7 linked regions of the Homo sapiens genome follow. The protein of the gene in region 6 purifies or fractionates together with the protein of the main gene of each other region. This does not show direct contact. Each region holds a gene or a part of one and is shown on either strand. Other genes may lie near its edges.

What was found.
Region 1: the proteins of CHST6 (region 6) and GOLPH3L purify together in Homo sapiens (affinity purification with mass spectrometry; 2 studies listed by BioGRID and IntAct, with this or other methods). This does not show direct contact.
Region 2: the proteins of CHST6 (region 6) and CLGN purify together in Homo sapiens (co-immunoprecipitation; one large-scale study listed by IntAct). This does not show direct contact.
Region 3: the proteins of CHST6 (region 6) and CANX purify together in Homo sapiens (affinity purification with mass spectrometry; 2 studies listed by BioGRID and IntAct, with this or other methods). This does not show direct contact.
Region 4: the proteins of CHST6 (region 6) and GOLPH3 purify together in Homo sapiens (affinity purification with mass spectrometry; 2 studies listed by BioGRID and IntAct, with this or other methods). This does not show direct contact.
Region 5: the proteins of CHST6 (region 6) and BACE2 purify together in Homo sapiens (affinity purification with mass spectrometry; 2 studies listed by BioGRID and IntAct, with this or other methods). This does not show direct contact.
Region 7: the proteins of CHST6 (region 6) and ALG9 purify together in Homo sapiens (affinity purification with mass spectrometry; 2 studies listed by BioGRID and IntAct, with this or other methods). This does not show direct contact.

What each region holds. Positions count from the first base shown.
Region 1 is NC_000001.11:150,659,155-150,662,654, reverse strand, and holds part of GOLPH3L (Golgi phosphoprotein 3-like), read left to right. Parts: intron 1-726; coding exon 727-841; intron 842-3,500. UniProt on the Homo sapiens protein: Phosphatidylinositol-4-phosphate-binding protein that may antagonize the action of GOLPH3 which is required for the process of vesicle budding at the Golgi and anterograde transport to the plasma membrane.
Region 2 is NC_000004.12:140,396,649-140,400,148, forward strand, and holds part of CLGN (calmegin precursor), read right to left. Parts: intron 2,393-3,500; coding exon 2,203-2,392; intron 1-2,202. UniProt on the Homo sapiens protein: Functions during spermatogenesis as a chaperone for a range of client proteins that are important for sperm adhesion onto the egg zona pellucida and for subsequent penetration of the zona pellucida.
Region 3 is NC_000005.10:179,719,467-179,722,966, forward strand, and holds part of CANX (calnexin isoform d precursor), read left to right. Parts: intron 1-201; coding exon 202-315; intron 316-937; coding exon 938-1,094; intron 1,095-3,337; coding exon 3,338-3,500. UniProt on the Homo sapiens protein: Calcium-binding protein that interacts with newly synthesized monoglucosylated glycoproteins in the endoplasmic reticulum. It may act in assisting protein assembly and/or in the retention within the ER of unassembled protein subunits.
Region 4 is NC_000005.10:32,164,320-32,167,819, reverse strand, and holds part of GOLPH3 (Golgi phosphoprotein 3), read left to right. Parts: intron 1-3,500. UniProt on the Homo sapiens protein: Phosphatidylinositol-4-phosphate-binding protein that links Golgi membranes to the cytoskeleton and may participate in the tensile force required for vesicle budding from the Golgi.
Region 5 is NC_000021.9:41,272,660-41,276,159, forward strand, and holds part of BACE2 (beta-secretase 2 isoform A preproprotein), read left to right. Parts: intron 1-2,711; coding exon 2,712-2,965; 3' UTR 2,966-3,500. UniProt on the Homo sapiens protein: Responsible for the proteolytic processing of the amyloid precursor protein (APP).
Region 6 is NC_000016.10:75,485,442-75,488,941, reverse strand, and holds part of CHST6 (carbohydrate sulfotransferase 6), read left to right. Parts: intron 1-3,500. UniProt on the Homo sapiens protein: Sulfotransferase that utilizes 3'-phospho-5'-adenylyl sulfate (PAPS) as sulfonate donor to catalyze the transfer of sulfate to position 6 of non-reducing N-acetylglucosamine (GlcNAc) residues of keratan.
Region 7 is NC_000011.10:111,865,082-111,868,581, reverse strand, and holds part of ALG9 (alpha-1,2-mannosyltransferase ALG9), read left to right. Parts: intron 1-3,330; coding exon 3,331-3,401; intron 3,402-3,500. UniProt on the Homo sapiens protein: Mannosyltransferase that operates in the biosynthetic pathway of dolichol-linked oligosaccharides, the glycan precursors employed in protein asparagine (N)-glycosylation.

The sequences.
Region 1 (3,500 bases), on a different chromosome or scaffold from region 6:
CTCAGTTTGTATCACTTGAGTGATCTTCTGTCCTTTCAGAGATATCATTTACCTTTATAGCTTCGTCTGTCACCTTCATGAGATTAATTTTCAAATTTCTAGGCAGGTCTTGTTTTTCCACCTCCAGAAACATATTTAACTATTGGCTAGAAATTTCAACTTGGCTATCCCATATCATTTAAAACCAAACTTAACAAAAATGAAAGAAAACCAAATTATCAACCTTTCCCCAAAACTGACTTCCTTTTCTGACTTTCCTGCCTTTGTTTATTTATTTATTTATTTATTTAAATTTTTATTTTTTTAATAGAGAAAAGATTTTGCCATTTTGCCCAGGCTGGTCTCAAACTCCTGAGCTCAGGTGATCCACCCGCCTCAGCCTCCCAAAGTGCTAAGATTACAGGCATGAGCCACTGAGCCCAGCTGTTTCCTACCTTTATTAATGGTTTCAAAAGTTGGTTTCCAGACTCAAAATGAGTTGTTATTGAAACTTTTCTCCATTATCATTCATATCCAGTTTGTCACTAGGGCCCACTTCAAATGTTATTTTTGTCTTTGCACTATCACTCCATACTATATTTTAAACTTCTTGAGGACAGAGACAGTATATTATGCTTCCTTACATTCTTGCAATTTTTAACCAGTAACATATACATGATATATTGAAAGATTTTAACTTGAATGAAGTGAAGGAATCAGGGTTCCTTCTTTCTCCTTTTCTCAAAGGTACTGCTAAAGTCAGACAGCCCAACAGGTGATGTTTTACTGGATGAAACTCTGAAACACATCAAAGCAACTGAACCCACAGAAACTGTCCAAACATGGATAGAGCTACTCACTGGTAAGATGACTTAAAATAATATATGAATTTCACACTTTGTTATCTTTATCCTACCCTGAAATTTAGTAAAAGATGTACCGAAATTCATCGTGCTGGATGAGATAGATGTGGTTCACTATTTAATTCTAATGAGGGACAGAAAAAGCATGGTTAATTGATACCTAAAGTTTTCCAAAGCTTCACCTTATCTTCTGCCACCCCACCCCAAAAGCCCTTAAATAGTATTCTTCACAAGAAACTTTTAAAACATCTTTATTGAGAGGACAATGAGAATATTGGCATTGATGCAGTCTATTATTCTTATTAGAATTTCCCAGTTTTAATTTGCCAAATAATATTTTATTGCATGGCCATACCACATTTGTTTATCCAGTCATCAGTTGATGAATCTTTGAGTTATTTCCACATTTTGGGTATTGTGAATAATGCTGCTGTGAACACGCACGGACAAGTTTTTGTTTGAACATGTTTTCATTTCTTGTGGGTATGTAGCTAGGAGTAGATAACTGGGTCATATGTAAATCAACGAGTAACATTCTTACTGTGGTAAAATATACATAACATTTATTATTATTATTATTATTTCGAGATGGAGTCTTGCTCTGTCGTCCAGGCTGGAGTACAGTGATGCAATCTCAGCTCACTGCAACCTCTGCCTCCCGGGTTCAAGCAATTCTCCTGCCTCAGCCTCCCAAGTAGCTGGGATTACAGGCACGTGCCACCACGCCTGGCTAATTTTTGTATTCTTAGTAGAGACAGGGTTTCACCATATTGGCCAGGCTTGTCTCGAACTCTTGACTTCGTGATCTGCCCGCCTTGGCCTCCCAAAGTGCTGGGATTACAGGCGTGAGCCACCGCGCCCAGCCAACATTTATTATTATTTTAGCCATTCTTAAGTGTACAATTCTGTGAAATTAAATATATTTGCAATATTTTGTAACCGTCACCTCTATCTATACTATACCCAAAGCTTCCTCATCATTACCCATTAAAACTCTGTACCTATTAAATGATAACTTCCTCTTTCTCTCTCCCCCCAGTCCCTGGCAACCTCTATTCTACTTTCTTTTTCTATGAATTTGCTTACTCTAGGTACCTCATATAAGTAGAATCATACAATATCTGTCATTACTTTCCCTAGCTTATTCACCAAGCATAATGTTTTCAAGGTCCATTCATGTCACAGCATATATCAAAATTTCATTCCTGTTTATGGCTGAGTGATATTCCGTTGTATGTATATAACACTTTCGTTTAACCATTCATCTGTTGATGGACACTTGCCTTGTTTCCACCTTTTGGCTATTGTGAATAATGCTGCTGTGAACATTGATACACAAATATCTGTTCAAGTTCCTGTTTTTAATTCTTTTGGATATATACCTAGGAATAGAATTGCTGGGTCATATAGCAGTTTTATGTTTAACCTTTTGAGAAATCACCAAACATTTCCACAGAGACTGCACCATTTTATATTCCCACCAGTATGCACCAGGGTTCCAATTTGTCCACATGCTGATCACCACTTGTTCTTCTCTTTCTTTTCTTTTTTTTAATTATAGACATCCGAGTAGGCCTAAAATGTTATCTCATTGTGGTTTTGATTTTTATTTTCAAATGAAAATAGTTTTCATGTCATTCCTAATGACTAAAAATATTGAGCATATTTTTATGTGCTTACTGACCATTTATATATCTTCTTTGGAGAAATATAAAATACTTTTCCCATTTTTAAGTTTGATTGTTTTGTTGTTGTTGAGGTTTTTTTGTATTTATTTATGAGATGCGGTCTCACTCTGTCACCCAGGATGGAGTGCCGTGGTGCAATCTCGGCTCACTGCAACCTCTATCTCCCGGGCTCAAGGATCCTCCCACCTCAGCCTCCCAAGTAACTGGGACTATGGGTGCGCACCATCACACCTGGCTAATTTTTTGTGTTTTTGGTGGAGATGGGGTTTTGCTATGTCACCCAGGCTGGTCTCTGAACTCCTGAGCTCAGACAGTCTACCCATCTTGGTCTCCCAAAATGCTGGGATTACAGGCATGAGCCACTGTGCCTGGCCAGAGGTTCTTTATATATATTCTGGATATTAATCTTGCCGAGACCAGCTCAGTTGTGGAGACCCTAACCCAGTGGCGCTAGAGGAATTAAAGACACACACACACAGAAATATAGTGTGGAGTGGGAAATCAGGGGTCTCACAGCCTTCAGAGCTGAGAGCCTTGAACAGAGATTTACCCACATATTTATTGACAGCAAGCCAATCATAAGGTTTACTAAAAGTATTCCTTATGGGAAATAAAGGGATGGGCCGAAATAAAGGGACGGGCTCTGGCTAGTTATCTGCAGCATGAACATGTCCTTAAGGCACGGATCTCTCATGCTATTGTTTGTGGTTTAAGAACACCTTAAGCAGTTTTCCGCCCTGGGTGGGCCAGGTGTTCCTTGCCCTCATTCCAGTAAACCCACAACCTTCCAGCATGGGCATCAAGGCCATCACAAGCATGTCACAGTGCTGCAGAGATTTTGTTTATGGCCAGTTTTGGGGCCAGTTTATGGCCAGATTTTTGAGGCCTATTCCCAACACGTCCCCCTTCTTTGTTTTACAAAGCAATAAAAGCAAAGGCAGCTTTGTCAAGGTGAGCTACTTCTCACAGA
Region 2 (3,500 bases), on a different chromosome or scaffold from region 6:
CGGGTTCAAGCAATTCTCCTGCCTCAGCCTCCAGAGTAGCTGGGATTACAGGCACCTGCCACCACGCCTGGCTAAGTTTTTGTATTTTTAGTAGAGATGGGGTTTCACTATGTTGGCCAGGTTGGTCTTGAACTCCTAACGTCAGGTGATCCACCCACCTCAGCCCCCCAAAGTGCTGGGATTACAGGCATGAGCCACCATGCCTGGCTGGAGCATATATATATACATATATATATATATATGTATATATATATATATGTATATATATATATATACACATATATATATATACACATAGCTTCATTCTTAACAGTTGCATAGTTTTCTACTTGAGGATACACCATAATTTATTTAGCTTATCTCCTCTTGGAGGACATTTAGTGTTTCCAAAATTTTACTATTATTAATACAAACAATGCCATAGTGAATGTCCTAGAATATATGCCATTTCTCATCTGTGAAAATATAATTGTTAAGAGTATGGACATTTTAAATTTTGATAGTAGCATCCAAATTACTCTCTATAATGGTTACACTCCACTTCCGGTTCTACCAGCAGCATGCAAAAGTACCTATTTTCTCCTGTCCTTGCGAAGAGTGTTACCAAACTTCTTGATTTCTGCCCATGTGGTAGGTGAAAAATGGTATCTCACTGAACTTTGAATGTACATTTAGTAGCATAAGTGATACACAAAAACTATTTTTTCTTAGCTCATTACCTTTATACTAAGAAATTAGCTCTCTGTCAGCTATATGATTGAAAATAATTTTTCCTGGTTCTTGTGTGTTTTTTGAAATAGTTTAGGGAGGTTTTTTTTTTTGCAATATACAAATCATTTATTTTCATGTAGTTGAACTTATTTTTAAAGGATTCTTGGATTTTATGTCATATTTGGAAAGTTCTTCCCTATTCCAATATAATTTTTAAAACTCTCCTTATTTAATTCTAGCATTCTTATTTTAAAAAGAACACTTAGGCTGGCGTGGTGGCTCAAGCCTGTAGTCTCAGCACTTTGGGAGGCTGAGGCGGGAGGATCACGAGATCGGGAGTTCGAGACCAGCCTGACCAACATGGTGAAATCCCATCTCTACTAAAAATACAAAAATTAGCCGGGCGTGGTGGCGCTTGCCTGTAATCCCACCTACTCATGAGGCTGAGGCAGGAGAATCCCTTGAACCCAGGAGGCAGAGGCTGCAGTGAACTGAGATCACGCCATTGCATTCTAACCTGGGTGACAGAGCGAGATTCCATCTCAAACAAAAACAAAAACAAAAACAAAACACTTAGTAAATTCTGAAGTATATAAACATAAAGTACTGAACTACTAATACAATTTTCATCATTACAGAAAGATAGAAATTTTAAACAAGAGGACACTTCATGATTTTCCAAATGAGTTACAAAATAAACAGAAATAATCAACTTTACAAATGTATAGATTTGTGCTTGCCTGATACCAATGTCATCTTGAGTTTCTGAGTGCTCAGAGTAACCAAAAGTTAAAATTTAATGGAGCATTTCTTTTAGTACTTTGTAAAACAAATTCTAACACATTTCAACAATCAGAATGAAGCAGTTATATGTGGTTTCTCTCATTTAAGGGCAAACATACTCTTTTTTTTTTTTTTTTTTTTTTTTGAGACAGAATCTTGCTCTGTCACCAGGCTGGAGTGCAGTGGCACGACCTTGGGCTCACTGCAGCCTCTGCCTCCTGGGTTCAAGCAATTCTCCTGCCTCAGCCTCCCGAGTAGCTGGGATTACAGGCACCCGCCGCCATGCCCGCTAATTTTTGTGTTTTTAGTAGAGACGGGGTTTCGCCATGTTGGCCAAGCTGGTTTCGAACTCCTGACCTCAGGTGATCTGCCCACCTCGGACTCTCACACACATACAATAAAGATCAAACTAGGAATGAAAATTAAAGCACTGGTATTTTGGATTTATGAAATTTTTAATCCACAGCATTGAAAACATAAAAAATAAATATATATTAAAAAATGCAACATAATTATCAATAGAAATAAAAAAAAATTACAGGGAGGGAAGTGTAAAATCCATTTTAGAAAATATTTCACCCAAAATACTAAAAATAAGTAGTTCTGATGTTTAAAAAAATAAACTTCATGGGTTGTAAACTTCACTTATATGTTGTTTCATTACCTAGTTATGCCAGATAATGCTTTGCTACCGAATTATTTGCTTACCAGTCTTCTGGTTTGACGGCAGAAGGATCAGGAATTTTTGCTCTTTCATCCCATTCCTCAGGTTTTTTATCATTGGGATCTTCAATTTCTTTGGGAGGTTTGATAGGAGGAACCACATCCTCTAGGAGGCTTCCTTTGTTTACAACTGTTTGATCAACTAACACCTCAAATGTGTCATCTGGATTCATCACTAAGGGACCAATTTAAATAAATTATAGTTATCATTTTGATATACGCTTTAAAGATAATCTTCTAAATAATGTAACTACCCTTAACTCCATGGGTAAAGCTTTTTTCCCAACCAGAAATAGAGGAATAACCAATGTATTGAACTAAAACATTCTAAAATCACTAGATACATTTCCTAAAGATAAAATTTTGTTTTAAACTGCATTTTTTACAATAAAATGCTCCATTACTTCTCAAATAAAAAATAATACCAAATAGCTCTGTTTTGGGACTCATAACGAGTCAGCTTCACTCTTTTATAGTTACAAAATACAAGCTAATCTTTTTCAGCATTTAATTTTTTTGATACCATCTTAAAGTGTTGTAAGTATAACAAAAAATTAATTTATTCTGTTCTAGTAATATTTTCTCATTATTTCTACAGTTTACTTGGTGTTCCCCCAAATGCCTAGTTTTTTCAATTATTTCATAAAGATATTTATTATATCACATCTGATATTGAAGATGAAATGGGCATTGCCCGAGCAGACAAAATGAATGTTTCTACCACTGCAGCATTTGGGGAAAAAGATTGAAATACTTTAATCTTGGGTGGAGTTGAGACGTGAGAAAGGAAGCCAATAGGGCCATTTCAAAATGTCCTATTAGGTTCCAATATGCTCTGATTTTGATAGTGGGCTGACCAGAGCTCTACAGCCATTATACTTGAGAATGGGAGAAACAACTGCTTATGATGTCCCTCACCCCCATATCTATGCAAATTCCTATTTACTTAAGTATATTAATATATGGCTGCTCAATGCTTCTCCTTTCGAAGTACATGCCACAACCAACACAAGGTAGGACATAACAATAATCACAACTGCCTACAGAATAAAGTCTAAACTTTTTAGTCTGGCATTAAGGGCCTCTTCCTTTTTATTTTTTAGTTTTCTGTTCTGGCCTCTTCCTTTTTATTTTCTAGTTTTCTGTTCTTACAGCACCACTGTCACAACGTCTAAAATGTCCTTTCACCCTACTGTCTTCAACATTCTATCTGTACTTCAAGACGAGTTCAAATATAATCTTTCCTAGCTTTGTTCCAAGTCTCTAAGCTGGAAGTAATATTG
Region 3 (3,500 bases), on a different chromosome or scaffold from region 6:
TTGTCTTTATATTATTGAGTTGTAAAGAGTTATTTTACTAGGCCCTTAGCAGATATATGATTTACAAGTATTTTCTAAGAGGAATTATTTTAAATTTTGAGATTAAAAACAAATTTTTTTAGAATACTCTGTTCTGATCCACAAAGTGGTACTATACTGTGACCAGTGTTGTCATAACTGGCTTTTTCTTTTGTATTTAAGGGATGAAGATGCCCCTGCTAAGATTCCAGATGAAGAGGCCACAAAACCCGAAGGCTGGTTAGATGATGAGCCTGAGTACGTACCTGATCCAGACGCAGAGAAACCTGAGGATTGGTAAGAACTTCAGTTAACTTTTTTTAATTACCTGGTTTTTTTGTTTGTTTTTTTTTTTGAGATGGAGTCTCACTCTGTCTCCCAGGCTGGAGTTCAGTGGCGCAGTTTCGGCTCACTGCAACTTTCACCTCCTGGGTTCAAGTGATTCTCCTCCATCAGCCTTGCGAGTAGCTGGGATTACAGGTGTGTGCCACCACACCCGGCAAATTTTTGTATTTTTTGTATTTTTAGTAGAGACGGACTTTCACCGTGTTGGCCAGGCTGGTCTCAAAGTCCTGACCTCAAGTGATCTGTCTGCCTTGGCCTCCCAAAGTGCTGGGATTACAGGCGTGAGCCACCACACCCAGCATAAGTTACCTGTTTTTATTGAAGTCAATCTTAATACTTAAATATAGCCAAGTTCCCTAATTTCAGGGTAGAATTTGACAATTTTAATTATATTTTCTTCTTTTTTAAAAAATAAATTTTTCCTGAAAAACTGTTATTACTGGAAATACAGGAGAAGCTGGTCTGGGATACTGTGAAAACATTTCAGCAGGATCTTGGCAGCCCTGGGCCAGCCAGCTGTTCATAGTCCTGCATCACAGAACCTGTTTATAATTTGTTGTTTGTACCTCCGTAGGGATGAAGACATGGATGGAGAATGGGAGGCTCCTCAGATTGCCAACCCTAGATGTGAGTCAGCTCCTGGATGTGGTGTCTGGCAGCGACCTGTGATTGACAACCCCAATTATAAAGGCAAATGGAAGCCTCCTATGATTGACAATCCCAGTTACCAGGTTTGTGCCTCTTGATGGTTGAGTTGCTTTCATTAATCTGTTTGTATTCAGATAGAAGTTTTATCTAGAGTAAGGCTGCCAGGTTGGTCATTATATTCAAGCTGTTGAATTAAAAGCAGAAAGTAGACTTCCTAAGTTGAAAGAGAGCTTAATGGGTTAGGTATTGCAAAGATAAACCTAGAAACTGGAGTGAATAACTTTCTTTAACTTTATTTATTTATTTATTTATTTATTTATTTTTGAGATGGAGTTTCGCTCTTCTACCCAGGCTGGAGGGCAGTGGTGTGATGTCGCCTCACTGCAACCTCTGCCTTCCGGTTTCAAGCGATTCTCTTGCCTCAGACTCCCGAGTAGCTGGGATTACAGGTGCCTGCCACCACGCCTGGCTAATTTTTATATTTTTAGCAGAGATGGTGTTTCACCATGTTGGCCAGGCTGGTCTCGAACTCCTGACCTCGCGATCCGCCCACCTCAACCTCCTAAAGTGCTGGGATTACAGGCGTGAGCCACTGCATCTGGTCAACTTTCTTTTTTTGAGACTGAGTCTCACTCTAGTGGCCAGGCTGGAGTGCAATGGCTCAGTCTCGGCACACTGCCACCTCCACCTCCTGGGTTCAAGCAATTCTCCTGACTCAGCCTCCCGAGTAGCTGGGAGCACAGGTGTGCTCACAGGTGTGCTCACCTCACCTGGCTGATTTTTTGTATTTTTAGTAGAGACGGGGCTTCGCCATGTTGGCCAGGCTGGTCTCGAACTCCTGACCTCAGGTGATCCACCTGCCTTCGCCTTTCGAAGTCCTGGGGTTTCAGGCGGGAGCCACTGTGCCCAGCCAAGAATAACTTTCATAGTTGCTTTGTAACTATATTTAAAAACAAAAGAGAAATGGAAAACTGTTGATTTGGGTACCCTGCTCTTGGGTGCTAGGGTTGCTTCAGCCATAGGATCCACAGCTGAGTCTGGACAATCTGTGATGTGGTGGGTAGAGGACTGTGGTTTGAGTCAGCATCTTGACTACATCAAGTCAGCTCACTGCTTGGCCTCAATGCTTGCAACTATAAAAAGACTGAGGCCCAAAAGAGATGGTAAGGATACAAGTAGTAAGGTTGTGAGGCTTTAGGCCTCATGCAAAAATGTACACCCTCAGACCTTTGTTCCTTTTATCTTTCTAGCCAAGTAAAATTATTTATAATCTCTACAAAGAGTGGCAATTAAAATTATTTATAATCATTAATTTCTACTTTATTTATATACAAATACTAATATATGTATATACATATACAGAAACAGGAGAAGCTGGTCTGATACTGTGAAAACATTTCAGCAGGATCTTGGCATAGTATATGTATATATACATATACTAATATATGTTTTTCTGTTTGTAAATTTTTTATTTTTTTCCTCATAGTCGTTAAAGATGTTATGTGAATGTATTTTTAATTGTGTAGTCAAACAATAAGATAAAAGTTTTACTTTAAAAAAGTTGCCCTTTAGGCTGGGCGTAGTGGCTCACGCCTATAATCCCAGCACTTGAGAGGCTGAGGTGGGTGGATCACCTGAGGTCAGCCATTCGAGACCAGCCTGGCCAACATAGTGAAACACCATCTCTACTAAAAGCACAAAAATTGGCCTGGTATGGTGGCACACACCTGTAGTCCCAGCTGCTTAGGCACGAGGCTGAGGCACAAGGATCACTTGAACACAGGAGGCAGAAGTTACAGTGAAAAAGAAGTTGCCCTTTAGTTGTTCTCCTGTTGGTGGCCATTTAGGTGGATTGTCACTTTTGCTTTCAGAGTCACTGCTGCTGTAATAATCCTTGTACATGTCTGGGTGTATGTTGTGAGTATTTCTCTAGGTAGTTATCTAGAAGTGAATTGCTGGTTGATGATCATGTGCGTTTTATTTTAAATCACCACTGAAGAAGTACGTACTGACTTATGCTCCCACTCTCATTAGCAGTTGCTAAGAGTGGAGGCTGTTGAATGGGCCAGGAACTTGAGGGGTTGGTTTGGACCAAGGTCATGGGTGACAGTAGAAATTGGAAGTAGTTGGAATCCTGCAGTCTTAGAGGCAGAGTGCGTAAAATAATCTGTAGCATTTGTTATTTATTTTCCTGTTGCTTATTTCAAGTTTCATGAAGTTGGCATTTCTCTCCATTGTTCATGCAAAATTTCTCTTACGGTAGATTCACCATAAACTTTTGTTGATCATTATCTGAAATGATTTTCTGAAACATTTTTTTTTCTAGGGAATCTGGAAACCCAGGAAAATACCAAATCCAGATTTCTTTGAAGATCTGGAACCTTTCAGAATGACTCCTTTTAGTGCTATTGGTTTGGAGCTGTGGTCCATGACCTCTGACATTTTTTTTGACAACTTTATCATTTGTGCTGATCGAAGAATAGTTGATG
Region 4 (3,500 bases), on a different chromosome or scaffold from region 6:
ATCATGCCCAGCTAATTAAAAAAAAAAATTTTTTTTTGTAGAGACGTGGTCTCACTATGTTGCCTAGTCTCGAACTCCTGGCCTCAAGCAATCTTCCCGCCTTGGCCTCCCAAAGTTCTGGGATTACAGGTGTGAGCCACCACGCCTGGTCTGCTTATTATACCTTTTCAACAAGATTTTATACTGTTGAAATTACTTTTTAGTGCTTTGGGATTCTTTTACAATATGGTCAAAATATTCACTAACTCATCTCATAAGTTATACTAATATTTGATATTTGTTAATTTTGGACTACCTGAGAGTTCTTGTATGGAGCATTTGAATTACGTTTTAGAATTGTATTTTGAAGGCTGGGTGCGGTGGCTCACACCTGTAATCCCAGTACTTTGGGAAGCCGAGGTGGATGGATCACCTGAGGTCAGGAGTTCAAGACAAGCCTGGCCAACATGGTGAACCCCTGTCTCTATTAAAAATATAAAAATTAGCCAGACATGGTGGCGAGCACCTGTAATCCCAGCTACTCGGGAGGCTGAGGCAGGAGAATCACTTGAACCTGAGAGGCGGAGGTTGCAGTGAGCCAAGATTGCGCCACTGCACTCCAGCCTGGGCGACAAGAGTGGAACTCCATCTCAAAAGACAAAACAAAACAAAAGAATTGTATTTTGAAGTTATTTTGATAGATTTTGAAATATTTGGGGGATTTTTTTGATATTTAAAGAAATACACTTTTATAATATCATCTTACATGTAAATCTTAAATACCCTGGAGGCATCAGGCATTATGCTTGTTCTGGTACATAATGTTAAGCTTTTGGCTGTACACTTTTTTATGTCTTTGCAAACTCCCCCCCCCTTCTAACAGCATAACTTTTCTACTGCCATTAATCAGATTAAATAGTATAAAACTATGCTGTAGTCTTTGTTTAGAGGATTTATCTTCATGTTGTGAGTCTCCCTTTGAAGCAGCACAAAAAGACAGTGCTTGTCCTCCTCCTGCTTTTTTTTTTTTTTTAAGATGGAGTCTTGCTTTTATCACTCGGGCTGAAGTGCAATGGCACCGTCTTGGCCCACTGCAACTCCGCCTCCTGGGTTCAAGTGATTCTCCTGCCTCAGCCTCCCAAGTAGCTAGGATTACAGGCGCCTGCCACCATGCCCAGCTAATTTTTGTATTTTTAGTAGAGATGGGGTTTCACCATGTTGGCCAGGCTGGTCTCGAACTCTTGACCTCAAGTGATCCGCCCACCTCGCCTTCCCAAAGGTCTGGGCATGAGCCACTGTGCCCGGCCATGCTGCTGCTTTTTAGTAAGTGTCCTGACAAGTGCCAAAAGTGGAAACCTGGCTTCATTTTGAAATTGATGTTTTTGGCTTCAGGTTTCTCTTATCAAAGCTGGGAAGACTGCAACCTGTTTTAATAGCATTGTACAGTATTACAATGTAATCTAGTACATTTTGAGGTTTTTGACTTAGGTATTACAAATATATTTAGAACATAGGCTATTTCTCTTCCCGTTTGGTAAACCTCTCATCTGCAAAAACACAACTAATATTAAAGTACAGTGTATTGCCAACAAGGATGTTTCTGGTCACTTTTAAGAATAACATTTTAAACAACAACAAAAAAATTTACTTATTTTTAAACTTAATGCATTGTATTTGATTTACATATTCCTTTAATGGAGAAGTTCTTAAATTGGAGTGAACAGAGCTGAGAAACTTTGTGAATTCTCTGCAGTTGTGTGTTTTCTTGGGGAAAGAGGACAGAACTTTCATTAGATACTCAAAGCATTTAGTGAATCAGGAAGGTTAAAAATTACCAAACAGGAACTGTTTGTTTTAGCTTAAGGTTTTCGTCTTTTCTTTTTCCTTCCTGAAAATTAACTACAGAAAATTCCAGGTTTCCAGGGTTGTAGCGAGTTGAATTTTAAGTGATTTGAGATACGAAGTCCACATTTCTGTGGCCTGTCTAGAGGTTCTCATCTTGCTAAATGACATTTAGAAGCAGCATAACTGCTTCTAATCTAGGATTACCACACATCTAGGATTCTAACAGTTTTCATCCATTCATCAAATGTTTACTGAGCACATGCTCTGTGAGAGGCCCTTTACTAAGTACAAATTCACTGAAGAACATGTCTGTCTTCAAGTTCATTCATTTTAGTTCTGTGTGTCAAAGCTCATATAGTAAACTACAAAACTAAATTATGTTGCTGTTCTAGAATTTTTTTTTTTTCTCTTCTGAGACAGAGTCTTGCTCTGTTACCCAGGCTGGAGTGCAGTGGTGCAATCTATGCTCACTTCAACCTCTGCCTCCTGGGTTCAAGCGATTCTCCTGCCTCAACCTTCTGAGTAGCTGGGATTACAGGCACTCACCACCACACAGGGGTACTTTTTGTATTTTTAGTAGAGACAAGGTTTCGCCATGTTGGCCAGGCTGGTCTCAAACTCATGACCTCATGTGATCCACCCACGTTGGCCTCCCAAAGTGCTGGGATTACAGACATGAGCCACCCTGCCTGGCCTGTTCTATAATTTTTTGATGTCATATATTTCAGGCTGGCATTTGGCAGTCACTCAGTACAATGACATTACTCACATTAAGAATACATAATTTACCTAACCCTGGCAGGTGTGGTGGCTCATGCCTATAATCCCAGCACTTTGGGAGGCTGAGGCAAGGGGATTACCTGAGGCAGGGAGTTAGCGACCAGCCTGGCCAACATGGTGAAACTCCATCTCTACTAAAAATACAAAAATTAGCCAGGCAGGGTGGTATGCACCTGAAATCCCAGCTACTCGGGAGGCTGAGGCAGGAGAATCACATGAACCCAGGAGGTGGAGGTTACAGTGAGCTAAGATCATGCCACTGCACTCCAGCCTGGGCAACAGAGCAAGACTATCTCAAAAAAAAAAAAAAAAAAAGAATACATAATTTACCTTATTAAGTAAGCTAATATTATTTATTAAAGTAAATTTACTTATTAAATAAATTTACTTAATACATTTACTGTATTAATTAAGTAGATTACTGGCTTTATTAAGTAAATTATGTATTCCCAGTGTGGTAATGTCATTGCCAAGGGAGTGAAACTTGGTTCTGGGCGTGGTAGTGAAAGAATCGTACTCTTGGCCGGGCGCGGTAGCTCACCCCTGTAATCCCAACACTTTGGGAGTTGAGGCGGGTGGATCACGAGGTCAGGAGATGGAGACCATCCTGGCTAACATGGTGAAAGCCTGTCTGTACTAAAAAAATACAAAGAAATTAGCTTGGCGTGCTGGCGGGCTCCTGTAGTCCCAGCTACTCGGGAGGCTGAGGCAGGAGAATGGCGTGAACCCGGGAGGCGGAGCTTGCAGTGAGCCCATATCGCGCCACTGCACTCCAGCCTGGGCAACAGAGTGAGACTCCGTCTCAAAAAAAAAAAAAGAATCTTACTCCTCTTATGTATAAAAAGGCACACTTACAGTGTACAAACAAATATGTATATTCCATCATATTAAAATTT
Region 5 (3,500 bases), on a different chromosome or scaffold from region 6:
TCTCTATTTAACATGTTTAACATTTTCTCTGGCATCCTGAGTAGAATACAGTTATAATAAATATCTTGATATCCTGCCTGCTAATTCTATCATCTGTGCCATTTCTTACTAAGTTCCAATTGATTGATTTTGCTCCCTATTATGAACTGTGTTTTCCTGCTTCTTTGCATAATTAGTGCTGTAGAATCAATGTTTATGTCCTGCCAAAATTCTTATGTTGAAACCTATCGGGGGAACCTGCCCCCGATAATTCAACATTATTTCACGTAGGTTCTTTTCTATTTCCTTAAGTGTCAGCCGGTCTGAGAAATAAAGGGAAAGAGTACAAAAGAGAGAAATTTTAAAGCTGGGTGTCCAGGGAAGACATCACATGTCGGCAGGTTCGTGATGCCCCCTGAGCTGCAAAACCAGCAAGTTTTTATTAGTGATTTTCAAAGGGGAGGGAGTGTACGAATAGGGTGTGGGTCACAGAGATCACATACTTCACAAGGTAATAAAATATTACAAGGCAAATGGAGGCAGGGCAAGATCACAGGACCAGGGCGAAATCAAAATTGCTAATGAAGCTTTGGGCACGCATTGTCATTGATAACATCTTATCAGGAGACAGGGTTTGAGAGCAGACAACTGGTCTGACCAAAATTTATTAGGCGGAAATTTCCTTGTCCTGATAGGCCTGGGAGCGCTATGGGAGACCGGGGCTTATTTCATCCCTTATCGGCAACCGTAAAAGACAGACATTGCCAGAGCAGCCATTTCAGGGACCTACCCCTAGGAACACATTCTTTTTCTCAGGGCTGTTCCTGCTGAGAAAAATAATTCAGCGATATTTCTCCTATTTGCTTTTGAAAGAAGAGAAATATGGCTCTGTTCCGCCCGGCTCTCAGGCAGCCAGACCTAATGGTTATCTCCTTTGTTCCCTGAACATTGCTGTTAGCCTGTTCTTTTCTCAAGGTGCCCAGATTTCATATTGTTTAAACAATTTGTGCAGTTAACACAATCATCACAGGGTCCTGAGGTGGCATACATTCTCAGCTTAGGAAGATGATGGGATTAAGAGATTAAAGTAAAGACAGCATAGGAAATCACAAGAGTATTGATTGGGGAAGTGATAAATGTCCATGAAATCTTCACAATTTATGTTCAGAGATTGCAGTAAAGACAGGCGTAAGAAATTATAAAAGTACTAATTTAAGGAACTAATAAATGTCTGAAATCTTCACAATTTATGTTCTTCTGCCATGGCTTTGGCCAGTCCCTCCGTTCGGGGTCCCTGACTTCCCGCAACAGAAACCTAATCTCCAAGGTGATGATATTTGGAGTTGGGGCCTTTGGAAGGTGATTAGGTCACGAGGGCAGAGCTTTTCTTTGTAAATGGAATTACTGCCCATTATTAAAGACAGTCCAAGAGAGCTCCCTTGTCTCTTCCACCATGTAAAGACACAGCAAGAAGATCATTATCTACAAACCAGGAAATGGGAGTATAGATTGACTGCAGGGTGCATCCCTCTGTTCTCGGTGTTGGCAGGCTCTTGTTCATTGCCTTTCTTTTTCAGTGCACTTAGGAAAGCCATATTATGACAGAATCCACATTAGCAAGAAAATGCAGTCACTTTGCAAAGTAATCAAGCCTGTTTTCCTCTGATTTTAAAACCATTCTTTTCAGGTCATTATCGCATTGTTATTTTGACTTTTTCTTTCCTCAGTCAAAAAGGGTATTATTTGGCAGCTCTGAAGATCTTGAGGCTTTAGTTACAGAAAAATCAAATTCTTAGCAGTGTTATTTTCTGGTGCCAAAATATTCATTTCTGTGATTAAATATAGGAAAAATGGGTAATGAGGCCTATTTCTTTTCCGTATTGCAAGTAAAGCTTAAGATCCCATATTCCTGAAAGGGGCAGAGAAGCCTAGTGTAGGCAAAGGAAGTCTACAGATAATCCACAAACCGGCTTTAAGAAATCATCTCAACTTCCTTCTTGGTTTGAAGTTATTCAAGAGTCTCTAGCAGAAGTCACCGGGTGAATTTTAACTGTTTCTCTTTGTCACCAGTGATGTCATGAATTAGGTGTTGCATTCACTTACTGCTCCTGGCTGTTGATGAGACCTAGGATAAGAGTGGGGCAGGGAGGGTCTCTCAAGCCAGCCTGACCCCCGGAGGTCTCACAACCCACTAAGACTATGAGTCAGGTTGATATGAGGTCCCTATCTGTTGTAGAATCCATGGTAGGGAGTGAACTCAGGTTGACTCCACTGGGGAAAATTCCCCATGACGTAGGCAGGTCCAGCTGAGCTTTCTGCGGTAAATTCTCCTTCTCTTTCTCCTCTTTTTTCATCTCCACTGAGGAAGCACAACCCACACAGCTGTCATGACCAGGTGCTGACCTGCACTCTCACCTGTGTAGTACCGCAGTGTCGCTGGCATTCCATGAAGCACAGGGTGCTTCCATATGTGCCCTGCTGCAGTTCCCCTCCACACCTAGGCTCGGTACCCACACACCTTAAAACATGCCGTCGTTCCAGTTTGCAGGGACTGGACCCCCAAAGGCACGCTGAGCCGTGACCCCACTCAGTGCTTCCTGAGCTGTCTAAGCCACTGGGACCTCAGTGGACTTTAACTGTGGTTTAATAAACCAAGGGGTTCTGTCTGTGTCCAATGTGAGAGGTGGACCGCTCATTTCACAGCTGTGGATTTTCCCTTTCTGTCTCCCCAGAAATTGCAGGTGCTGCAGTGTCTGAAATTTCCGGGCCTTTCTCAACAGAGGATGTAGCCAGCAACTGTGTCCCCGCTCAGTCTTTGAGCGAGCCCATTTTGTGGATTGTGTCCTATGCGCTCATGAGCGTCTGTGGAGCCATCCTCCTTGTCTTAATCGTCCTGCTGCTGCTGCCGTTCCGGTGTCAGCGTCGCCCCCGTGACCCTGAGGTCGTCAATGATGAGTCCTCTCTGGTCAGACATCGCTGGAAATGAATAGCCAGGCCTGACCTCAAGCAACCATGAACTCAGCTATTAAGAAAATCACATTTCCAGGGCAGCAGCCGGGATCGATGGTGGCGCTTTCTCCTGTGCCCACCCGTCTTCAATCTCTGTTCTGCTCCCAGATGCCTTCTAGATTCACTGTCTTTTGATTCTTGATTTTCAAGCTTTCAAATCCTCCCTACTTCCAAGAAAAATAATTAAAAAAAAAACTTCATTCTAAACCAAAACAGAGTGGATTGGGCTGCAGGCTCTATGGGGTTCGTTATGCCAAAGTGTCTACATGTGCCACCAACATAAAACAAAACCAAGCCTTGGCTCGTTCTCTTCTCTCTTCAATCTCTGGAAAAATAAGTACATATAGTTGATAACCCCTCTTAGCTTACAGGAAGCTTTTTGTATTAATTGCCTTTGAGGTTATTTTCCGCCAGACCTCAACCTGGGTCAAAGTGGTACAGGAAGGCTTGCAGTATGATGGCAGGAGAATCAGCCTGGGGCCTGGGGATGTAACCAAGCTGTACCCTTGAGA
Region 6 (3,500 bases):
CACTCACCTTCCATCTTTATGTTTTATGTTTTGTTTTTGGTTTTGTTTTTCTTTGAGACGAAGTTTCACTCTTGTTGCCCAGGCTGGAGTGCAATGGCGTGATCTAGGCTCACTGCAACCTCCACCTCCCGGGTTCAAGCGATTCTCCTGCCTCAGCCTCCCATTACAGACCTCATGTGATCCACCCACCTTGGCCTCCCAAAGTGCTGGGATTACAGGCATGAGCCACCGCACCTGGCCTGTTTTATGTTTTATGTTCCCTGCTTTATGTTTTGTCTCATTTTCTGTTTTCTTCTCTCTTCTTTCTTCCTCTTTCTTTTGCTCCTTGTTAGCCTTCCCCCTTCCAAATGCCCAGGGCTCCACTAGAGCAGTTTGGCCCCAGTTGTAGCTCTTGATGCCTCAAGGCCACTGACTCCTCATTGGGTATGTTTTTTCCAGCCTTTGGGATTCTTTTTTTTTTTTTTTTCTCCTTGTGACGGGGCTTTGCTCTTGTTGCCCAGGCTGGAATGCAATGGCTCATGATCTCTGCTCACTGCAACCTCCACCTCCCAGACTCAAACAATTCTCCTGCCTCAGCCTCTGGAGTAGCTGGGGTTACAAATAGGCACCTGCCACCATGGTGGCTAATTTTTGTATTTTTAGTAGAGACGAGGTTTCACCATGTTGGCCAGGCTGGTCTCAAACTCCTGACCTCAGGTGATCCACCTGCCTCGGCCTCCCAAAGTGCTGGGATTATAGACATGAGCCACCGTGCCCAGGTGGCTTTGGGATTCTCGAACAGGGATGACCTCCAGCCAACTCTAAACAGAGAAATCTAAACCTGGGATCTATACCTAGTGTTACATTTTGTTCCCTTAGATTCTATGAACAGGGCTGGAACAGGCTGGTAACAAGAAGAGCTGCTGTGTCTTGTTGTTGTTTTGGTTTTGTTTGTTTGTTTGTTTTTTGAGGTGGAGTGTTACTCTGTTGCCAGGCTAGAGTGCAGTGGCATGATCTGAGCTCACTGCAACCTCTGCCTCCTGGGTTCCAGCGATTCTCCTGACTCCGCCTCCCGAGTAGCTGGGATTACAGGTGCCCACCACCACACCTGGCTAATTTTTGTATTTTTTCTCTTTTTTTTTTTTTTTTTTTTTTTAGGGGGGACGGAGTCTCACTCTGTCTGTCACCCAGGCTGGAGTGCAGTGGCACGATCTCAGCTCACTGCAAGCTCTGCCTCCCAGATTCACGCCATTCTCCCACCTCAGCCTCCTGAGTAGCTGGGACTACAGGTGCCCGCCACCACGCCCGGCTAATTTTTTGTATTTTTAGTAGAGACAGGGTTTCACTGTGTTAGCCAAGAAGATGTCGATCTCTTGACCTTGTGATCCACCCTACTCAGCCTCCCAAGTGCTATGATTACAGGCGTGAGCCACCACGCCTGGCCAAATTTTTGTATTTTTAGTAGAGATGGGGTTTCACCGTGTTGGTCAGGCTTGTCCCAAACTCCTGACCTCAGGTGAGCCACCTGCCTCAGCCTCCCAAAATGCTGGTATTACAGGTGTGAGCCACCACTCCCGGCCTGGAGCTGCTGTGTCGAGGGTAGGCAGAGCTTGGCTGGAAGTGAGTGCTGCCCAGAGAGCCAGGACTCCTGGGCTCCAGCTCAACCCTGCTATGGAAAACCATCCTTGGTCAATGTCTTGCTTTTCCTATTTGCAAATCAGGCAGAACCATAGCTCCTTCCTAGGTCTCTCAGGCCAGGCCAAGAAATGGTAAGGGATGTTTAGAAGATCCTGTGACTTTAAGGTGCTCGGCAGAAAGCCATGTGGGCTACTGGGGAATTCCTCCCTCTGGATGTGGACCACAGAGTATCTGAGTGCAATGGCAAGTATTTGTTCATGTCCTCTACTCATTTGTTGTTTGGGACATTCCTTGACATGACTCTTACTATCTTCTTCAGTCAGGATTCTTTACTTTTTATTGAAGTATGCCATTCTTCAGAGTACATATAATGAAAGTACAGCTTGGTGAACTTTCACAAACTGAACACACCCATGTAATTAGCACTGTCAGAGAGAAACAACGCAGGGCCAGCCCCCAGAAGCTCTGCCCCTGCACCCTTCCCACCTCACCCCACCAAGGGTTTCACTGTCACTATCTAATCACCACTCTTGGGTGTAAGTGACAGAAACTCATCTCCCAAGGACTTAAGCAGAAAGTGAATGCTTCCCTCAGCTGAGGGGTCCATGGGTAAGCCTTGCACAACTGGATCCAAATGCTTAGATGGTGCTGTCAGCTTGCCTGTGAACTTTCTCTGCTGAGTTCTCTTCTGTTGTTGATTTTAAACCTAGGCAGTTTCCTCTTCCCTTGTGATCAACAAAACTCCAGAATTGCAGTTGAGCAGATGTCCCATTCCTAGGCCAATAGTTCTGTGTGGGCTGGGGGGGCAGGGTCAGTGTGTGGAATATAGAGGTGGGTCTGTCTTGGGACACATGACCCTTAGGAGCCGGGAGTGGTGGATCAGCCCCATCTGAGCCACATGCACTTTTGAGTGGGTGAGGGTGATTCCCCAGGGAAAAGCCTAGAGACTGTTATCAGAAGGAAAAACGGGTACTGAGTGGACAGAACCAAGCATGTCCAGTGCACCTGTGCAGTGCTGATCCTCACACTAGTCACCGGAGAACAGGTGTTCGCTTGCGAAAAACCACAATCCAAAGTTCCGGGTTGCTCACAGGCAAGAAGGGAAAGCAAAGTACAATGCAGGGCAGAGTGGGGCATGCCTTGACAGGCACAGAGGAGGTGGCTGCAGGCGAGGCTGAAATGCCTCCCAGTGGGAGTCAGGGCTGCGCACTCATAGCATGGGTGAGGGAGTTGGGAGAGATGGAGCTTGTTTGATGAACACTGATTATTCCCGGCCATCTGAAGCCTGGGATATGGGAGATAAGGCTGGAAAGCTGAAGGTTACTGAAAAGGAGAATGACAGGATCAGATGTGTGGTGTAGGCACCTCTGGGGGCAACTGTACAAGATGGACTGAAGGGAGGCCAGGTGGGGACTTTGCTGGAATCCAGGAGATAAGGATGCAGCCAGGACCAGCATGACCCTCCCGCGGCTGGATGTCCAGGCCATCCACTGGGACACCATCAGGTCCCTTGACCGTCACATAGCCAGATGTGTCTTCAGTGTCCCCAACTTGATTGTCAGCTCTGCCAGGATCGGGATCCTGAGCACTGGCTTTCCTGGATGAATCTTTTGCTGATCTTATCTCTTCTCTATTTTCCAACCTTTATCTGTCATTTATGTTTTTTGTTCTACTTTTCACATCTTTTAAATTTTTCTTTCAACGTTTCTAATATCTAATGCAATTAGCCCCAAGGAAAACTAAGGGAAACAAGAAAAAACAAGAAAGGAAATGTACTCTCAGTACTTCAGCTGTGAGCTGTGAGCTTCAGCTGTGAGCTGGAGTGTTTTGCTCTGGTTTTAGGTTTTTGATTTTTTTTAAGAAAGAGGGTCACACTCTGTTGC
Region 7 (3,500 bases), on a different chromosome or scaffold from region 6:
AAGCAATCACAATTGATCAAGAGGTGAGTCTCTGGTATAGTTTTGAGAAAAGGACAAAATGAATTGGAAGTTAAAAGGGAACTTTTTTTGAAGAAGAATCATTTATCCAATTCACCATTCAACAAGCATTAATGAAACAACTTTTATTTGGTAGACACTGTATTAAGTGCTGTGGCTATAACAGTAACCAAGCCCCTGACTTAATGAAACTTGTGGTTTAGTGGAGAAGATGAACATTGAACAAATCATTCTAAATATGGTGGGTCTTATGGAGGAAAAGTACAATGTACGGTGGAATAGCATATTAGGAGGGTCTAATTTAAGTAGAGTGCTGAGAAATAATTAGATGTTAACTGGGACCTAACCTGATTAGTTTTCAGAAATTTGACTATGATGCGTCTTGGTGTGGATTTCTTTGGGTTTGTCCTGTTTGGAGTTTATTCAGCTTCTTGAATCTTTGGGCTTATTCCTTTTGCCAAATTTGGAAAGGTTTTAGTTTTTATTTTTTTGAATACTTTTTCAGCCCTGTCCGGTTTCCTCTTCTTCTGGAACTTTGATGATGTGAATGTCAGATCTTTTGTTATTAGTCCCCCAGGTCTTTGAGACTCTGTTTTCAATTTATTTTCTCTCAATGGTCAGTGGAGGCCTGGTAGGGAACCTCGAGTTCTACCTCCACTTGGCGGTAACAAGGTAGAGACTTCCCACTAACGCTCTTTCCCTGCTGGGTTAGTGGGAAGTAGTATCAAAAGAAGCCAGCTAAAACAGAAAGCTTAAATAAGATCGTAGGAGCACAACAGTGCAAAGAAAGCATGCTGAGCCCATGAATAATCCAGAATCTCATAATGCAATACCTAAAATGTCCAGCTTTCAACTGAAAATGACCTGTCATACCGAGAATCAGGAAGATCTCAAACTGAATGAACTGTTGTTCACATTGAGTAATTTCTTTTCTTCTGTCTTCCACTTCACTGATTCTTTCCTATGTCCCCTCTTCCAATGCTGACCCCGTCCATTGCATTTTTAGTTTGTTCTATGTACTTTTTCAGTTTTAAAATTTCCATTCAGTTTTTCTTTATATCTTCTAATTTTTTTTACTGAGACCTTCTCCTTTTTCATTTGCTTCAAGCATATTCTTAGTTATTCACTGAAATATTTTTACAAAGCCCGCTTTAAATTTTGTTAGATAATTCTGACACCTCTGTCATCTTGGTGTTGGAATCTATCGATGGACTGTTTTCATTCAGTTTGAGATTTCTACAAGACCTGGTAGGATCTATTAAGGTATTAGACTGTTGTTCTTTTCCCCCCAAGTCTGTTATGTAAAGCCACTGCAAGGTTTTCAGACAAAAGAGAGGTATGATTGCATTTACATTTTAGAATGATCAGAAAGGTGGCACCTGCAGAAAGTGACAAAATACTGTCCCTCCCTTCCCTATCCGGTATCTCATTTCCATTTTTTTGTTTGTTTGTTTGTTTGGTTTGTTTTTGAGACGAAGTCTCACTCTGTCGCCCAGGCTGGAGTGCAGTGATGTGATCTCGGCTCACAGCAACCTCCGTTTCCCGGATTCAAGTGATTCTCCTGCCTCAGCCTCCTGAGTGGCTGGGATTACAAGCTTGAGCCCCCACGTGTGGCTAATTTTTTTGTATTTTTAGTAGAGACAGGGTTTCACCATGTTGGCCAGTCTGGTCTCAAACTCCTGACCTCAAGTGATCCACCTGCCTTGGCCTCCAAAGTGCTGGGATTACGGGCGTGAGCCACTGCACCTGGCCTCATTTCTGGTTTTTTTTTTTGAACTTGTCAAAGGAAAGATAATAAAGGGTGAAGGGCTCAGCAGAAAACTAACAATGTGCTATGCAGAGGGTTTTTATTTCCATTTGGCTATCTAGTATCACTTCAAATTTTACATGTTCAACACAGAATTCTTCCTCTTCTCTAATCCTGTTACATCACTGATGTGCACAGCAAGTGAAATGGAAAGCAAGATTTCTCTTCTTCTCTTGTTCTTACTTCTGATCTCCTTTTTCCTAGCCATTCAGCAAAGGGGAATTGTAGCTTAGAGAGTCTTAGCCCCAGCATCATAACGTTGAGTAGAGAAGGATGGTTGTTTCTGAGAGACAGGGTGGTAACAATTGGCACATCTAGTGATAGCTACCTTCTCAATCTCTTGCTACCCCAAATGAAAGCACCTTTGTATTATCTCTTCATGGACCTGTTCGTGAATTTCTCTGAAGTGTACACTCAGGAGTGAGATCCCACAAGTAGGCCCATTTTTTTTGTTTGTTTTTGAGATGGAGTCTCACTCTGTCGCCAGGCTGGAGTGCAGTGGCACGATCTCGGCTCACTGCAACCTCCGACTCCCAGGTTCAAGTAATTCCCTTGCCTCAGCCTCCCGAGTAGCTGGGGTTACAGTTGCCCGCCACCATGCCTGGCTAATTTTTTTGTATTTTTAGTAGAGATGGGGTTTCACCATGTTGGCCAGGCTGGTCTCGAACTCCTGACCTCAAGTGATCCGCCTGCCTCGGCCTCCCAAAGTGTTGGAATTACAAGTGTGAGCCACCATGCCCGGCCAGTTATACTATATATTAAGTAGTGTTTAAGTTCTGAGAAATTCAGTGCTCTTAACCATATGGTATTCTGTAGTATAAAGCTACTTAATATAACCCCTATTTTATTATTTTTATTTTTTAAATTGATGTCAATTATAAAATTAATAAAGCCACATAACAGAACTTTGGAAGATAGGAGGAAAAATACTCATCTAAATCTACCAGGTTGCTATAGCTACTTTTACCATTTTATTACATTTCTTTCCAGTCTTTCCACATGCATATAGTGTCCATAGCTGTAACTGATGTATAAATAATATTGTACATTTTCTCTTAATATTTTGTCATAATCACTACCTGATATATTATGGTTGTTGAAGAATTGCTTGTTGAATGAGCATTATATTGCAAGAATGTTTTCACTATCTTTGTAAACATAAATTTTAATAGCTGTATAATTGTCCATGAGCTAGATGTAGCCTAGTTTATTTAATCATTTCCCTATAATTGGATATTTTGTAGTTTTTGAAACAGTTTTTACTAAAACTGCAATTAACATTTTCATGAATGGAGCTCTACCTCCCAACCCCCACCAGCTGGAGTGATAGAAGTAGGTATACTGATATTGAGTCAAGGGATATGAAAATTCTTGATCCATGTTGCTTTTCAAAAGAATTATACCAATTTACAGTGTTATTGACAATAAATGAGAGTGGTTCATGTTTATGAGTTTTTCTAGCTCATATCTGTGACTTCTGTTTTCTTTTTCTGGGTTTCTTTTAGATTCTTGTGTTTTACTTTTTGCGATGTCTTCTGGCTTTTGTGAGCTGTATTTGTGAACTTTACTTTTACAAGTGAGTATAAAAACTTTGCTTCTAAAAGTGCTGTGAGGAAACCCATTATTGCATAGATTATCTGTTGTGATAGTCTAGGCAGTGATTAGAAATAGAAAA